Linked DNA regions of Homo sapiens: region 1 is linked to region 2. Evidence: fine-mapped expression QTL. A gene starts in region 2. The other region holds a variant in brackets. All regions are shown on one strand. Distances are between the middles of the regions.

Region 1 (8,853 bases), 690 kb before region 2:
CCGTCCATGGGCGGCCACAGGCAGCTGGGGCTGGACTCCTGGAATTTCCAGCAGCCCTGTGTCTGTTACAGCGCCAGTGGTAGAGCTGGATTCCCTGACAAGACGGGGGAAGGACAGCCTTGCAGGTGCTACTGAAGACACCCTAGGCTAGAGCTGCCCACCCTGGGTGGGTTCTCCTGGACTGAACTGACGTTGGTTTGCTATTGATGAGAGTCACATAGTATATGTACACAATGCATTTTAACTGCCTCAGAATTAAGGTGTTATCTGGAAACAGTGTAATTACAGTTGGTCAGAATTGGGTTGATAGCAGTTCACTGCAGAGAACTTTCTGGAAGCTGTGACAGGTGGAAGTAGTGGGGCTCAGGGTTGGTGGGCCACACCTTAGCTGTGTGGCCTTGGCCAAGTTGCTCATCAAGACCTTCCTGTCACTGATGAGGTGAGAGTGACCGCTGGGCCGTCCTGAGGCTGACATGGGATTCCTTGCCTGTGCACACTTCCCAGAAGGCGGACCAAGGACACACCCGCCTGGGAGACGGCTCGCAGGCAGCCACGGAGTATATATATCTGAACGTCGGAAAGGACCTTTCCTTTGAAGCTCAAACATTTATGAGATATTGTTACAATTCGGAAGGGATCTGTAGGTGAAATGTGACATGAAGACTGGGTAACGTTGGCATTTGCAGACTGACTTTATGTGTGGCACTTTTCGTGGGTGCCATGGCGTCGGCGCAGAGACACTCCTGAGGGATTTCGTCTGTCGGTCCATGTGTTTGTGGGGGCCGAGTCCTGGACAGGCCTAGGAGGGAACCGCCCCGGCCAGGGCCGGCTGCTCGGCGCCTGCACAGGGCATGAGTGCTGGGGGCTTTGGGACACACGCTCCCTGCTGCCTCTGGGGCAGATGTCCACCTGCACTGCTTGCAGTGAGAGGCTGGGGCCCCAGTGGACGAGCCGTGGTGCCTGAACTGCTCCCGCTGTGTCCCCGCCACGTGAGGCATCTCTTCCTGACCGTGGTCCTGAGACCACCTGGCCTCTGCCTTCCCAGGGTTAACTGTACTTGTTCTCTCCGTGGCTGCCGACACCCTTCTGGCCTTCAGACTTAGCCCTCATCACTCGTGGACTCCTGACCCCACCCAGGGCTGACCACCGGAGCCCTGCTCTCTGCTTCCTTTGCGGCTGATATTGTCCCCATTCCAGTGTTGTTCTTGTGCCTGTCTCCCCTCTAGCTCCTTGCAGTCAGGGAGAGGACTTTCTTTATACCTCTATCCCTTGTCTTCTAGGGGCATCTCCTGCTCAGTGAAATGTGCTGACCCGTAGCAGGTGGTCTCTACCAGGGCTTAGTGTCAGCATGGGACACTTTTCCAGCCATTACCCCTTCTTTCCCCTCTACCCACCTCCAGCCCCGAGGTGCGGCCCAGCAGGACAGATACTGCCACAGCCCTCCCTTGGTTGTGTTCATACTTCCTGGGCTGCTCATGCCTTCCTGTTTGCTGGTGGATTCTCTTTTTGCTGGAGTGTATCCCCAAGCAGCTTTTCCAGAAAGGACCAACTTGCCCGGATCTCTAATTCTCCATCAAAGCCACTTTCCCTCAGAGCTTTGCAGCATTGAGGAGGCATCTTCAAGCATCTGACTCTTCTTCTCCCTGGAAGCTTCTAAAGTCTCAGTGCCTTGCCCTCCTGCTCTCCACCTTTGCTCTCTGTTCTGGTTATTTATCGAGGAGTCTCTGAGGCTCTTTTTTTTGCTCTCTTGTAGTGGCCTTGGTGAGCTCTTCAGCCTCAAGGCTTGTCCTTGGCTCTGGATGAGGCTCTTCTGGCCTCTCCCCAATCTGCCCATGTGTTCCAAACACCGCATGCCCCAGCTGGGTTCCAAACAGGGCGGGTGGGGGCCACTCTCCTGTCTAGCTTCGTAGCGTGGGCTGAAACCTGGGAAAGTCTCTCCATGAAGCTGAATGGAGAAGAACATGGCTTCCGCGAGGCCCTAGGAGCCAAGCACCACACAGAACCCACCGCTTGGCTGTGATCCCGAGTGACGGGGACAGCCTGGACTGCAGAAGGAATGCCCAACGCTGGCGGGAACGGAGGGGCTTTTCTTGCTCGTCTTTCCAGTTCCACATTGTCACATTGGAGTCCTGGGCTCACTGAGATTATGTTGAAAATCCGACCTCTAGGGGATCTCCATGCTAGTTTTGTCCTTTAGGCGTGGAGGCATGCGTGCCGCACTGTGGCGTCTGTTCTGTGCGCCTGCTCACCGCCCTTCCTTCTTTTCCGCGTGGGGCAGTTTTATCGCGTCTCCCCGGCAGCTGCTTCGGCGAGGTGGGGCCGCGGTGCCATTGGTAGCGTGTCTCTGAGTCTCACCGCAGCCCTTGTAGCTTGGCATCCTCGTCAGATGACACCCGAGGCAGGGTTGACGTGGCAGGCAGAATCGTTTGCACCCGTATTTGCTAAACTCTCAGCTGTTCTTCAGAAAATTTGAGGAGAAAATGAAACCAAAAAGAATACTTGAAACCCTGCTCAGTTGGTTTTGTTCTGAGCTTTCAGTGGCTCTAAGAGCTCATGGGAAATGAGTTCTTTTTCTTTTCTCCGGGCCACTTGAGTTCTAATGAAATGCACCACTTGGTTTTACAAGTTCTTCTATAAAATACTTGCTTGTTTAAAAAGCAAACAGCACTGCCCTACTTCGGAGCTCTGCAGCACATCCCTTAAAGAAAAAATACTTGAGGTCACTGTGCTGAGGCCCAGAATTTAACCACGGCCAGTAAGAACCATCAACAGAGAACGGCATTTCTGGGATGACTGTTTTAATCTTACAACAATTTATCTGAAAGGAGAAAAGAGAAAGCTGATTTTTTTTTTCTGATTCTTTTTTTTTTTTTTTTTTTGAGACAGAGTTTCACTTTTTCGCCCAGGCTGCAGTGCAGTGGTGCAATCTCCTCTCACTACAACCTCCGCCTTCCGATTTCAAGAGATTCTCCTGCCTCAGCCTCCCGAGTAGCTGGGGCTACGGGCACAGGCTGCCACGCCCAGCTATTTCTTTCTGATTCTGAAACAAAGTATTTATCGGCCATGCCTGCTGTTGGCTGCTCGGGCGACACGGTATTTCCTCGGTATTTCCTCGTTGCAGCTCCCAGGTCAGGCTCTGGGTCCCTGTGAGAGGCGGGTGGCCGCCATGGCTCTGCTGCCTCCCGTGTGGGGTAGTGACGGGGCCTTCCGAAGCTTGACTGCTTGGTTAGTTTTGTTTTGAGAGCCTGTGATGTTTCAAGATTTTTACTGCATCTTTTTATGTAGCTATTTTTATAACATGAGTAGAGGTTGAAATAGTTTTTTTCTCTCTGAAATCTCAATTCAGTCTGTCTTCCTTTTTCCTGATAAGCAGGAAGCATCCTATGCTTCTTGCCTTAGAATTACTGATTTAGGCTATTGCTTTGGTGAGGCCACATCTTGTTTTCCTCTGTGGTCCTGGAGTTTGCGTTGTGGTGAGGGGTGGAGCACATCCACCCTTCAGCTAGCGCCAATTAGGTCCCTGTGGGAAAGGGGCCCCAGCCTAGCACCAATGAAGGCTGGGCCCTGGAGTGTGCAGTGGCTGAACAGTCACAACCTGTGTTTCTCCCACCTGCATACATGCCAGGACATACACACATGCATCCCTGCACACGCACACATACATGTGTACATGTGCACACGTGTACAGAGACATGCATACACCCGTGCACACATGGACACAGGGCATCCATGCACAGGTGCACATGTATACATGTGCACATGTGTACAGACACATACACACAGGGACACATGGGCATGTCATACCCATATGCACACACACTGGCCTGAGCTGTGGAAGCTGCTGGTGCGGTCCCTGCACGTGTGGCCGCCGGGGCTGAGGGCCTACCGCGAGGTGTCCTCTATGTTGCTAGGAGGTCAGCGCTCACAGCTCAGGTCCCTTCCACCCAGTGGTGGAGGCAGTAGGGGTGTGGGGAGCCTTCTGCTGCAGCCCTGTTTCCCGCCCTG[C/T]GACCCACCCCGAGTCCCCTCTGTGTCCCACCTCATGTCCACCCTGTGTCCAGCCTTGTGTCCAGTCTGTGTCCCGCCCTGTGTCTGCCCTTTGTTTACCCTGTGTCCATCCCGTGCCCGCCTGTGTCCACCCTCTTCCTCCTCACTTGGAGCTGCCCCCACCCACCTGCCGTCGCAGCCCCTTTAGAGGTCACCAGCCCTGACCCTTTCGTCGCCCAGGGCCCTGCGGTGCTCTGCCTGTGGCCCTGCTCCCACTGCCTTGGAGGGAGGCTGCTCACAGCGCTTCATGCCGGGCACTGAGTGGTGCAGAGTCTTCGAGAAACCTTTACTTTTTAAAATTTTTTTATTAAAAATAAAACTATTAACTGAAACTGCAGACTCTATGGCTTTTCCACCCGTGCCTGTTCCGTTCTGGGACCCGGTTTTGTCCTGGCGTCTCCTCCCTCCCTCCCTGGTCTGTGAGTCTCCCAGACTTTCCTGTGCAGGATTCCGACCTTGACAGTGTCAAGCAGGCCTGTCATGGCGTCTGTAGAGCGTCCCTCACGTTGGGTCCGTCTGGTGTTTCCTCGCAATTAGACTGGGTGATGGGTTTTGGGAAGACGCCCACAGAGGTGCGGGGCCCTTCCCGTCACACCGTATCAGGGTCCTGACGTCCGCACGGCTTTCTGATCACCCGGCCAAGGTCTGCCTGCCAGGTGTGCCCTCTGACAGGTCCCTGCTTTCCCGCCCGCTCTGTCCTCTGGAAGCCGCTCACTGGGTCCAGCCCCCGCCTCCTGAAGGGAGTGTCTGCGGACATTATGTGGAATTCCTCTGTGAGGAAGATCTTGTTACTTACTTGTTTGTGGTCACTGATTTTGTCACTATGGACCCACGCCCATTTATTTTCCCTCTGGGTCGTGATCCCGTGCTGTCACCGTGAGTCTGTGTCTGGGTCGTGATCCCATGCTGTCACCGTGAGTCTGTGTCTGGGTCGTGATCCCGTGCTGTCACCGTGAGTCTGTGTCTGGGTCGTGATCCCGTGCTGTCACCGTGAGTCTGTGTCTGGGTCGTGATCCCGTGCTGTCACCGTGAGTCTGTGTCTGGGTCGTGATCCCGTGCTGTCACCGTGAGTCTGTGTCTGGGTCGTGATCCCGTGCTGTCACCGTGAGTCTGTCTGGGTGGTGATCCCGTGCTGTCACCGTGAGTCTGTGTCTGGGTCGTGATCCCGTGCTGTCACCGTGAGTCTGTGTCTGGGTCGTGATCCCGTGCTGTCACCGTGAGTCTGTGTCTGGGTCGTGATCCCGTGCTGTCACCGTGAGTCTGTGTCTGGGTCGTGATCCCGTGCTGTCACCGTGAGTCTGTCTGGGTCGTGATCCCGTGCTGTCACCGTGAGTCTGTGTCTGGGTCGTGATCCCGTGCTGTCACCGTGAGTCTGTGTCTGGGTCGTGATCCCGTGCTGTCACCGTGAGTCTGTGTCTGGGTCGTGATCCCGTGCTGTCACCGTGAGTCTGTGTCTGGGTCGTGATCCCGTGCTGTCACCGTGAGTCTGTGTCTGGGTCGTGATCCCGTGCTGTCACCGTGAGTCTGTGTCTGGGTCGTGATCCCGTGCTGTCACCGTGAGTCTGTCTGGGTCGTGATCCCGTGCTGTCACCGTGAGTCTGTGTCTGGGTCGTGATCCCGTGCTGTCACCGTGAGTCTGTGTCTGGGTCGTGATCCCGTGCTGTCACCGTGAGTCTGTGTCTGGGTCGTGATCCCGTGCTGTCACCGTGAGTCTGTGTCTGGGTCGTGATCCCGTGCTGTCACCGTGAGTCTGTGTCTGGGTCGTGATCCCGTGCTGTCACCGTGAGTCTGTGTCTGGGTCGTGATCCCGTGCTGTCACCGTGAGTCTGTCTGGGTCGTGATCCCGTGCTGTCACCGTGAGTCTGTGTCTGGGTCGTGATCCCGTGCTGTCACCGTGAGTCTGTGTCTGGGTCGTGATCCCGTGCTGTCACCGTGAGTCTGTGTCTGGGTCGTGATCCCGTGCTGTCACCGTGAGTCTGTCTGGGTCGTGATCCCGTGCTGTCACCGTGAGTCTGTCTGGGTCGTGATCCCGTGCTGTCACCGTGAGTCTGTGTCTGGGTCGTGATCCCGTGCTGTCACCGTGAGTCTGTGTCTGGGTCGTGATCCCGTGCTGTCACCGTGAGTCTGTCTGGGTCGTGATCCCGTGCTGTCACCGTGAGTCTGTGTCTGGGTCGTGATCCCGTGCTGTCACCGTGAGTCTGTGTCTGGGTCGTGATCCCGTGCTGTCACCGTGAGTCTGTCTGGGTCGTGATCCCGTGTTGTCACCGTGAGTCTGTGTCTGGGTCGTGATCCCGTGCTGTCACCGTGAGTCTGTGTCTGGGTCGTGATCCCGTGCTGTCACCGTGAGTCTGTGTCTGGGTCGTGATCCCGTGCTGTCACCGTGAGTCTGTCTGGGTCGTGATCCCGTGCTGTCACCGTGAGTCTGTGTCTGGGTCGTGATCCCGTGCTGTCACCGTGAGTCTGTGTCTGGGTCGTGATCCCGTGCTGTCACCGTGAGTCTGTCTGGGTCGTGATCCCGTGTTGTCACCGTGAGTCTGTGTCTGGGTCGTGATCCCGTGCTGTCACCGTGAGTCTGTGTCTGGGTCGTGATCCCGTGTTGTCACCATGAGATGGTGTCTGGGTTGTGATCCAGTGTTGTCACCGTGAGTCTGTGTCTGGGTCGTGATCCCGTGCTGTCACCGTGAGTCTGTGTCTGGGTCGTGATCCCGTGCTGTCACCGTGAGTCTGTGTCTGGGTCGTGATCCCGTGCTGTCACCGTGAGTCTGTGTCTGGGTCGTGATCCCGTGCTGTCACCGTGAGTCTGTGTCTGGGTTGTGATCCAGTGTTGTCACTGTGAGTCTTTGTCTGGGTTATGATCCAGTGCTGTCACTGTGAGTTTGCTGCTCAGCTCCTCCAGCTTTGACCACTGGTGGGTTTCCCCTCCTTCCCCGCAGGGATGCTTCCGGCCCAGCTTCTGTTTCTCTGCCCCAGCCCTAGAATGAGTTGTTTCCAAGGAGCCCTGGTTCTTTTTAGGGGAGCATAGAAACTTCAGTCTGGGCACTGGGAGGGCCGTTGCTCCCGGGGTGTCACAGCTGCTGGCCCTCTTCCTGGGTAGAGCTAGGCTCTGTGTGTCACTATCTCATTTCACACATTTGATTGCTTCTCTGTCGTATCCACCTATCCATCTGTAAGTATACGAAGGTCAACCTGGTCCATGCCGATGACTCTGACTCTCACCTGGCACACGGTGTATTCCAGCCTTCCGTCCTGGAACATGGTGTATTCCATCCTCCCGTCCTGGCACACGGTGTATTCCAGTCTTCCCTGCTGGCCCATCTGAATCCTCCCTCTCTGCTAGTGGGAACCTGGCTCCCCTGACTCCTCTAGCATCTGCTCAGCCCTGGTGCACGTGCGAGAATTGTCCACCCAGGCCCGGGGGGGAAAGCCCTGGAGTGCAGCGTTTGTGTACAGCTCCTTCTGGCCTTGCGGTCTCCACTCAGAACATTTTCCGGAGTTGCTTAGGCGGCTCCTGCCCTCTGGCCAGTGTGTTTCTGTTTCACATCCGTGCGTGTGGAGCCTGTATTCTATCTGCATCCCCCAACCTCCTGGTCGGGTCTTCCCCCAATAGTTTGTGCACATTGAAGTTCATCTCGTGTAATGCTCAGTGCTGTGGGCTTTGCCTCCATCACCCCAGCTCCAGCCCCAAGTCCCCCGTGCATGGGAGTGACCACTTCCCCTGCACCAGCCCCTGGCACGCCCGGGTCTGTCTCCCGTCCCTCTGGTTTTGCCTTTTCCAGTGTGACATACGAATGAAATCACGCAGTATATAGCCTGTTGGGTCTAGATTCTTTTGCTTAGCAAAATGCACTTAAGATTCATCCATGTTATTGCCTGAACCAACAGCTGCATTCTTATCTCTGATTATTTTTCTGTTGCACAAATGCACCTCCGGTTATTTATCCACTTCCACCGTGAAGGATGTCTTCCTTGTTTCTAGTTTTTAGTGGCTATGAACAGAGCTGCTATGAGCATCTGCATGAGGCTTCTGTGCGAGCACACTTTCAGGTTGAAGGCCTGAGAGGTGCAGTAGCTGATTTGTAAGGTAACCCTTCATTATCTGGGTCAGATGCCACCGTCTGCCATCCACAGTGGTAGGCCACAGCATCCCCGGCACAGCGAGGGCACTCCTGCTGTCCCGAACCTTCTGCAGCATTGGGCACTGTCCATGTTCGTGTTTTTTTTGTTTTGTTTTTTTGGTTTTTTTTTTGAGACAGTCTTACTCTGTCGCCGAGGCTGGAGTGCAGTGGCGCTGTGTCGGCTCACTCCAACCTCCGCCTCCTGGGTTCAAGCAATTCTCCTGCCTCAGCCTTGCGAGTAGCTGGGATTCCAGGTGTGCACCACTATGCCCAGCTAATTTTTGTATTTTTAGTAGAGACGGGGTTTCACCACATTGGCCAGGCTGGTCTTGAACTCCTGACCTCAGGTGATCTGCCCACCTCGGCCTCCCAAAGCGCTGGGATTACAGGCATGAGCCACCGCGCCCGGCCTGGGCACTGTCCGTTTTCAAGCACTTCGGCCATGTGACGTGTGTGTGGTGACAGCACGCTGTGGTTTTCATGGGCATTTCCGCAGTGATGAAGGATGTTGAGCATCTTTTCACGTGTTATTTGCCATCCGTACACCTTCCTATGTCTGTTCAGACCTTGTGGCCTGGTTTTTTCTTCCCACCTTTAACATTGGGTTGTTTGTTTTCTAATTATTGAATTTTAAAAGTTCTTTAAATATTCTAGATACAAATCCTTTATCAGATGTGTGATTTGCCAGTATTTT
Region 2 (8,853 bases):
AGCCGCCGCCCGCCCCGCCGCCGCCCCGCTCGGCGCTCAGCCCCGGCGCGACTGCGGTGAGCTCATCCCGGCCGGGAGCGCCCCCCGCGCCCAGCCGCGCCCGGCAGAGAGCCCCCAGCCGCTCCGGACCCCGCGCAGCCCCGCAGAGACGCGCGTGTCGCCCGCACGGGCCGGCACCCGGGTCGCCCCCGCCGGCGTGCCAGGACCCCGCACAGAAGCGCCCGGACGCGGACGCACGCAGCCGCGGTCACGATCCCCGCCGCCCGCCCGGCCCGTGCCCGGCTCTGGCCAGCAGGGCTGCCCCACCCCCACGGCGCGGCGGGAGCCCGAGGGGGTCTCCTGGGAAACCCTCTGCGGGGCGCCGTGGCGCAGGTGCGCCCCCATCCCCAGGGTCTCATTATCCGCGGCCACACCTGGGGCCGGACCGCGCGCCCCCTTCCCCTCCCCCGCTCCTGAGGGAGCTTCTGTCTGGGCCGAGGGGGACTCCGGGGGCCTGCCCAGCCTTGGGGTGAGGGGCTGGCCCAACACCCTACAGGTTCACGGTCATCAGTAGGGCGGGACCACAGTGGGCGCGGGTCGCACGCACACCCAGGAGGCAACAAGGGCCCCTCAAAGGCTTAGCGACCTGGCTGCGCTGTGTGAGTTCCCAAGAGGGGGTGTCCCTGCAGGGCTCTTGGAAACCCAGTTACCGAGCCCCCTGTCCTCAGGGAGAGGACACTGACAAGGGGGCGGAGTACAGAGACCGGAGCACAGAGGGGGCTTCTGATATTGACACCTAAACTGAGACCTGTGGGTGGGTGGGGGGGATGGGACCCGGCAGGGGACAGGGGTGAGCAGGCCCTGGCTGGGACAGCTGGACCAAAGGCCTGCGTCTGGATAAGGGAGAAGGGGTCCGAACACCAGCCTGAGTCCCTTTCTTAGACACCCCTGGCCGGTTCCAGGGACACCAGAAATTAGACCCGCCCTTGCCAAAGAGCTCCTCAATTGAGAGAAGACCACCTTGGGTGCTAGGGGGCATTGGGGTTTGGGTGGGGACTGTCTCCCTTGCCCCCCAACTGCCCACAACCTTTCCAGGGCAGGATCCTATGAACTTGTGCCCAGGCCCCCCTAGAGCGCCACCTCTGCTGACCCTTCGCTGCAGGGAGCGGGGGCTGTTAGGACACTTGTCCCCAGGCCCACAGCTCCAGCTCCTGCAGCTGTTACCAGATAGAAGGTCTTGGAGGTGAGTTGTCCAGGTTCTTGGTGGGTTGAACAAAGAATTGAACAAAACGCACAAAGTAACAAAAGAACAACGAAACACAAGGAAACAAAACTGAGTCAGAAGAACGGAGTAAGGAAAGCACAGATTTAACGGAAGGCAATTCACAGAGTGGGAGTGGGCTGGAGCAAGTAGCTCCAGAGCCTCTGTAATTAGGATTTTTATTAAGCAAAGAAACCTGACCACAGCCCTTGTGCCCTTTAGAGGCCTCCAATTGGCTACACCCTATGAAGGATTGGCCCGAGACCAATCAGAGGTGAAGTGGAAATTTCTGTCTTGTTATCACAGCAGCCAGGATGTGGCTTGTGAGCTGCCCAATCCTGCCTAGAACTGGCTGCACCTGCTGTTCCGTTTCTTATGCCCAACCCTTGGCTACCCTCATTCCCTATTCTGCCTCACAGCTACCATGGGTGCCCACCCCTGCAGACAGGGCAGCCAGACCTGGGCCACCTCACCCCACCTGGGTGTGGGGCATGGGAGGGCTCACTGGGATCCAAGCGAGATGGTACCCTGGAGTAAGAGACCCCACAAGCCCCCTGCCCCAGCTCATGCTGAACGTGGCCTCTCCGGCAATGGAAATGGACTCAGACCACTATGTTAGGGGCTCCCAGCCCAAGGCCAACCGCCCACCCTGCCCAGCCCCTAGCACCCTCTGAGTGGGTAAGGATGGGGAGAGGTACTCTGCCTCCAAGAAAGCAGAAATAGACCAGATGCGGTGGTACACATCTGTAGTCCCAGCTACTCAGGACGCTGGGGTGGGAGAATCACTTGAGCTCAGGAGTTTGAGGCTGCAATGAGTTTATGATTGCACCACTGCACTCCAGCCTGGGTGACAGAATGAGACTGCCATCTCTCAAAAAATAAATACATAGCCAGGTGCCATGGCTCATGCCTGTAATCCCAACATTTGGGAGGCTGAGGCAGGAGGATCACTTGAGGCCAGGAGTTCAAGATCAGCCAGCCTAGGCAACACAGCAAGAAACTGAGGCCCTTACAGACAGGGATAAGCGAGGGGCTACGTGTATATTTATCTACAAAAATAAAAATGAAATTAAAAAAAAAATTAGTGGCCAGGTGCGGTGGCTCATGCCTGTAATCCCAGCACTTTGGGAGGCCAAGGCAGGTGGATCACTTGAGGTCAGGAAGTTTGATACCAGCCTGGCCAACACGGTGAAACCCCATCTCTACTAAAAATGCAAAAAAAAAAACAAAAAAAAAAATTAGCCGGGCATGGTGGCGCATGCCTCTGATCCCACCTACTTGGGAGCTGAGGCAAGAGAATCGCTTGAACCCAGGAGGCGGAGGTTGCAGTGACCCGAGATTGCACCATTGCACTCCAGCCTAGGCAACAAGAGTGAAACTCCATCTCAAAATAAATAAATAAATAATTTAAAAAATAAAGAAAGCAAGCAGAAATAGATGCATTTGCACCTTTTAAAAATGGTGCTGAGGCTGGGCTCGGTGGCTCAGGCCTGTAATCCCAGCACTTCGGGAGGCCGAGGTGGGCAGATCGCCTAAGGTCAGGAGTTCAAGACCAGCCTGGCCAACAAGGTGAAATGCTGTCTCTACTAAAAATACAAAAATTAGCCAAGCGTGGTGGCGGGGGCCTGTAATCTCAGCTACTCAGGAGGCTGAGGCAGGAGAATTGCTTGAATCTGGGAGGAGGAGGTTGCAGTGAGACGAGATTGCGCCATTGCACTCCAGCCTGACAGAGCAAGACTCAGTCTCAAAAAAAAAAAAAAAAAAAAGATGCTGGCTGGGCATGCCTTTAATCCCAGCACGCTGGGAAGCTGAGGCAGGAGGATGGACTGAGCCCAGGAGTTTGTGACCACCTTGGGCAACATAGTGAGACCTCGACTTAGTTTTTAAAAAATGATCCGACCGGGTGTGGTGGCTCACACCTGTCATCCCAGAACTTTGGGAGGCCAAGGCAGGTGGATCACCTGAAGTCAGGAGTTTGAGACCAGCCTGGCCAACATGGTGAAACCCCATCTCTACTAAACATACCAAAATCGGCCAGGCACAGTGGCTCACACCTATAAGCCTAGCACTTTGGGAGGCCAAGGCAGGCACATCACCTGAGGTCAGGAGTTCGAAACCAGCCTGGCCAACGTGGTGAATCCCTATCTCTACTAAAAATACAAAAATTAGCTGGGTGTGGTGGCGCGTGCCTGTAATCCCAGCTACCTAGGAGGCTGAGACAGGAGAATCGCTGGAACCCAGGAGGCGGAGGCTGCAGTGAGCCAAGACCGCATCACTGCACTCCAGCTTGGGTGACACAGTGAGACTCCGTCTCAAAAACAAAAACAAAAATAAAAATTAGCCAGGCGTGGTGGTGGGAGCCTGTAATCCCAGCTACTCAGGAGGCTGAGGCATGAGAATTGCTTGAATTCAGGAGGCGGAGGTTGCAGTGAGCCGAGACTGCCCGGTGGGGCCTGAAGATCCTGGGCCTGGCTCGGGGTGCACCTGGGGGACAGGCATAGCCATTGGAGGAGGGAGAGAGCTGGGAGTGGAGTGGGGCCTGAAGCCTGGCGGCCGCCGGTGACACTAAGTGGGTGTGTGTTGAGGGCCTCCCTGCAGTAAAGCTCCTCTCCAACAGTGTCAGGGTGCCCTGGGCAGGGTTTCTGCTCATTCCCCAGCGGGCCACCCAGGCCTGCGTGGAGCTGAGGGAAGTGAGCCATGAGCCATCAGCCACTTTCCCGGAAGGACCCCGGATAAGGGACCCACAGCAGGAGATGGGGACAGCTGGGTCACACTCTGCAGCAGCCACGTGCTCCACTGACAGCCGGCATCCGGCCCATGTAGAAAGCTGACCCAATCTCTCATGCACCCTGCCCCTAACCAGCCACCGTCACAGCAATGTATGCAGTCTTGGCCACAAGCATCGCAGGACACAAGGCCTCGGGCAGTCATACCGCTGGCCCTGGCCCCGGCCCCACAGCCAGGCCTCTAGTCCCTGTATGTCCTCAGGGCCCCACACATAGGACCGGGGTTACAGTGGGCCCTAAACCACGTTTCCCACCCCAGTTCACTCTCCCTACGGGTCTCCTCTACTCACGGAACCCCTCTCCCTCTCTGAACCCCCATCCCCTCCGCTGCCCTCCCTGAGACCCTCCCCATAGTAACCCCCCCTCGCTGATGAGCCCCTCTGCCTCTCCCAGAGACCACCCCCTGCTCCAGCTGAGCTCCATCCCCTCACATCCCCCCTCGGCCCCCGGCCCACACCCTCCCCCGTCCCACTTCGCCTTCACCCACGAGGGCCTCAGCGTCCCGGGACCTGGGTCGGGGGGGTGACTCGGGTCGCTCGTGGGGGGCCGGCTCGTTTGCCTCTGGGCCGTGGCCGTGTCTCTTAAAACCCGAACCGGGGCCTGGGCGACTCTGGCCTCGCGGCCCGAGGGTTAACCCGGGCGCGGCGCGGCGCGGGGCGGGGCCGGGCGGGACGTCGGTCATCCCCGCCGGCCTCGCCCCGCAGCCATGGCCGCCGGCCCCGCGCCGCCCCCCGGCCGCCCCCGGGCGCAGATGCCGCATCTGAGGAAGGTGCGAGGCGGGTGGGTGTCCCGCCGTCCCCCGATTTCCCGGCGCCCGAGGCCGGGAGGGGCCGGAGAGCATGGGGACACGGGGGCGCGCGGGGCGGGGCGGGCCTGGGGCGGAGGTCTGCGAGGCCGGGAGGGGCGGCGAGGCCTGGGGCCCTTGGGGGTCTCCGGGGTCTCCCCGGCCCTCCCCGGCCCTCCCCGGCCCGCCCCGCGTCCCCGCCGCCAGCTGCGGCCTGGAATCCGCCGCCGCCGCGCGTTAATCTCCGCGCTCCCGGATCCGGGGCATCCCGGCCGGTGCCAGGGAATCAGGGTTGCGGGGCGGCCAGACACCCCCTGACGACTCCCTCCGCCCAGATGGAGCGGGTGGTCGTGAGCATGCAGGACCCCGACCAGGGCGTGAAGATGCGGAGCCAGCGCCTGCTGGTCACCGTCATTCCCCACGCGGTGACAGGTGAGGCGCGCCGGGGCGGGGGTGCGTGCGCGCCTCGGCCTCCCTCCACCTCTGTCTCTCCCGTGCAGGCAGCGACGTCGTGCAGTGGTTGGCCCAGAAGTTCTGCGTCTCGGAGGAGGGTGAGCGCCCTGCCTCCCACTGGGCCCTGGGGTCACTGGGCTGGTGGCCTAGGCCTGGGTTTTCCTGGAGTCTGGCAGTTCTCAGAGCCCTGCTGAGCGCGCTGTGCAAGGGTGGGGAGCACATAGGGGAGAGGAGGCCCGGCTCGTCCCGCCCTCGCCCGCTTCCGCGGCCCCGCGCTCACCGTCCCACCCCTCCCCAGAGGCCCTGCACCTGGGCGCCGTCCTGGTGCAGCATGGCTACATCTACCCGCTGCGCGACCCCCGTAGCCTCATGCTCCGGCCAGACGAGACGCCCTACAGGTTCCAGGTCAGGCTCGGGGGTGCAGGTGGGAGCCGGTGGGACCCCCACCCCCACCCACCCAGCTTACCAACTCGGGGAGACAGGAGGGGCGCCGAGCTTGCTGGGATTGGAGTGGGACTCCGCCATGTCGCCGTGGGCTGGTGGTCCATCGCCCCCTCCCCAAAAGTCCTGGACCGCAAGTACGGATGTGGTGAGAAGGACCCGGCTGAGGGATGGAGCCTCAGTTTTCCTGGGGACCACAGCAGGGCCCCACAAGGGGTCGTATGTGCAGAGGATTCTGCCATCTTCCTGGGGGTCCCTAGGCCCAGGTCCTGAGGGAGGGGCTGTGAAGGCCTGAGGACAGCATTCCTGCCCTCCCTAACCACATCAGGGTCCCGGGCCGACCTGCCGTCGGTTGTACCCCTCCCCAGGCACAGACTGTGACTACATCCAAGACTTGTGCAGGCCCCCAGCCCCACCCCGCCTTGAATGGGGGCTTAGGGTGACCAGTGAGGGAGGCAGTGTCTGAACAGGGCCCTAAGGAGCGAGTTGACCTCAGTTCTAGTTGGAGAGACTGGCCAGTGGTCAGTGGAGTCTCTCGGTGGTGGGCAGGCAGGGAGATCCTCAGACACCTCCTGCCCAGCCCAGGCTTCTTCCCAGGGAGGTCTGAGGGTGGGGTGACACTGGGGAGGCACAGACGCAGGCGTCCTGGACACCTTCTCCCTGCACCACGCCAGACCCCGTACTTCTGGACAAGTACCCTGAGGCCGGCTGCAGAGCTGGACTATGGTGAGCAAGGGGACGGCTGGCCCCAGACAAGTTCCCAGGACTGGGGGCCTCAGGGTGATGCCGTGAGGCAGGGCAGAGCTGGCCCCTCTGCAGGCTGTCCCTGTTCTTCCAGCCATCTACCTGGCCAAGAAGAACATCCGAAAACGGGGGACCCTGGTGGATTATGAGAAGGTGGGACCCCCCACCCTTCCCGCCCCGGCTGGGTACAGCTGGAGGAACCCAAGCCTCACTCACGGCCCCCCGGGGCTTCACGGTTTACCCCAGAACATACAGCCCAGGCCCCAAAACCCAAGACAGTCCCCAACCCCCCAACTGCCCACACAGTCTCACTGGGGGCAGGGGCCGGGGTGACCCACTGGAAACCTCGCTGCCCCCAGGACTGCTATGACCGGCTACACAAGAAGATCAACCACGCATGGGACCTGGTGCTGATGCAGGCGAGGGAGCAGCTGAGGTGAGGCCCCGCCCTGCCCCGCCCCGCCTGCAGGCGCCCAACCCAGGCTACCCGGGAAGCCCAGCCCAGGCCAGGCTCCGGTGGCCCTGGGACCGTGGAGGGCACCCCTGGGTGTGGCTGCCTGCCCAGGTCCAGGCCTGAGGGTGGGGGCGGAGGGGCTGCTGTGTGCAGGGCGTGCCCTCAACTCGGCCTCCTCCTCCCAGGGCAGCCAAGCAGCGCAGCAAGGGGGACAGGCTGGTCATTGCGTGCCAGGAGCAGACCTACTGGCTGGTGAACAGGCCCCCGGTGAGCCCACCTGCGGTGAGGGTGGGGGTCGCTGGCCAGCGCAGGGGTCAGCGTGCTTCCCTGACAGGCGCTCTCAGGACCACCATTTTGAGCCTGTGGAAGGACCTGCCTTGGAGCTCCTGGTGGGGGCAGGACGTTTTCACTTCGTGACTTAGTTGCGTTTCTGCCAATCAGAACCCAGGTCTCCATCCCTAGACCACAGGACAAGCCAGCTTCTCTCTGGGCCCAAGGGAGAGTCACAGGGATGCCAGATTGCGGGGACTGCAGACTCTGCCTCGGGAGCAGGCAGAGTGGGGGCGGCCTTGGCTGCAGTGGGGGGACCGAGTTCACAGGCCGGGAGCAGCTGGGGCTGTGGGGAGGCCCGGTGGACAGGCCATTTGGAGGTGGTGAGCAGAGAAGAGACAGCTGACGGCTAGGTCGGGACTCTTCCCGAGTTCCTTTGAGTGTCAGTTTCCACATGGGGGTCTGGGAGGGGGAACTTAGCCTTAAAGGGGGTCAGCCACCGGAACTGCATCCCCACCTCATCTCGTCTCCCCTCCGCAGCCCGGGGCCCCCGATGTGCTGGAGCAGGGTCCAGGGCGGGGATCCTGCGCTGCCAGCCGTGTGCTCATGGTGAGCCCCTGCGTGCGTGCTGGCCGCCCTCTCACCCTGCACACCGGCTGCACCCTGCTGGACGCACCATGGGACTGCCCATCTGTCCGTCATTTGGTCCACCCAGAGGGCACTTGGTGCAGCCTCCCCAAGCCCCTGCTCACTCCCGGTCACTCCCTGTTCCCCAGGCCCCTGCTAACTCTCGCTTTCTCTCCCCTCCCACCTGCTGCCCTGGGTGCAGGTAAGTGGAGTGGTGGGGACGAGGGGGCTGGCGGGGAGGAAGGGGGCTCTTCTCCAGAACAGTATCAGGGTTTGCTGGGAATTGGAGGGGTGACAAGCAGGGTTACGGCCTCTGACAGACCTCAGCAGATCCAGCAACCTCCCTCCAGGTGGAGGCCTCCAGAACCAGAGGGACCAGACCAGAGGGAGCATCTGAGCCCCGCAGCAGCAAAACCCTTTGTTCAAACCAGTCCCATCCAGACCCAACATCTGGAAAGATGCACCTAGAACCTCACTGATAAAACTTCTTAAGTTCACGACCCTAACATTTCCCCATACAAAGCTGGTCAGAGAGAGCGGGGACACAGGCCAGGACTCGCAGCGCGTCCGCCTCCTCCGCTCTGGCCCCAGCGAGGTGCCGACCAATGAAGGTCACACCTGGTTCCCCAGTGATCCCCATTAGTAGTATTTCTCAAGTATGTGTTGTTTAAAAACATAATTTAAGTACATTTGAAAATGTGACATATTAGGCCGGGCGCGGTGGCTCACGTCTCTAATCCCAGCACTTTGGGAGGCTGAGGCGGGCAGATCACCTGAGTTCAGGAGTTCGAGACCAGCTAGATCAACATGGAGAAACCCCGTCTCTATTAAAAATACAAAATTAGCTGGGCTTGGTGGCGCATGCCTGTAGTCCCAGCTACTGGAGAGGCTGAGGCAGGAGAATAGCTTGAATCCAGGAGGCGGAGGTTGCGGTGAGCCGAGATCGCACCACTGCACTCCAGCCTGGGAAACAAGAGTGAAACTGTCTCAAAAAAATAATAAAGAAAAAAAAATGACATATTACAGTTGCAACTTTGAGAACCTGAGGTTCCGT

The links. PIP is the estimated chance that this variant, and not a neighbour inherited with it, causes the effect.
Region 1: its variant is fine-mapped to the expression of RGS11 in adrenal gland (GTEx, PIP 0.97).

What each region holds. Positions count from the first base shown.
Region 1 is chr16:958,322-967,174 of GRCh38, reverse strand. The region is part of intron 1 of LMF1 (lipase maturation factor 1); the gene reads left to right. Among named protein-coding and RNA genes, the nearest start is that of LMF1, 8.2 kb to the left of the region's middle. RefSeq lists an enhancer at 6,691-7,191. The variant C/T (reference allele first, on the strand shown) is at 4,006.
Region 2 is chr16:271,791-280,643 of GRCh38, reverse strand. It overlaps RGS11 (regulator of G protein signaling 11), which reads left to right and starts at 4,700. Exons shown (of 17, transcript NM_183337.3): 1 at 4,700-4,795; 2 at 5,146-5,242; 3 at 5,311-5,361; 4 at 5,562-5,668; 5 at 6,379-6,430; 6 at 6,543-6,601; 7 at 6,808-6,884; 8 at 7,088-7,169; 9 at 7,713-7,781. The coding sequence starts at 4,733. It overlaps ARHGDIG (Rho GDP dissociation inhibitor gamma), which reads right to left and starts at 53. Exons shown (of 6, transcript NM_001176.4): 1 at 1-53. RefSeq lists enhancers at 4,784-5,435, 6,623-7,159, 7,160-7,696.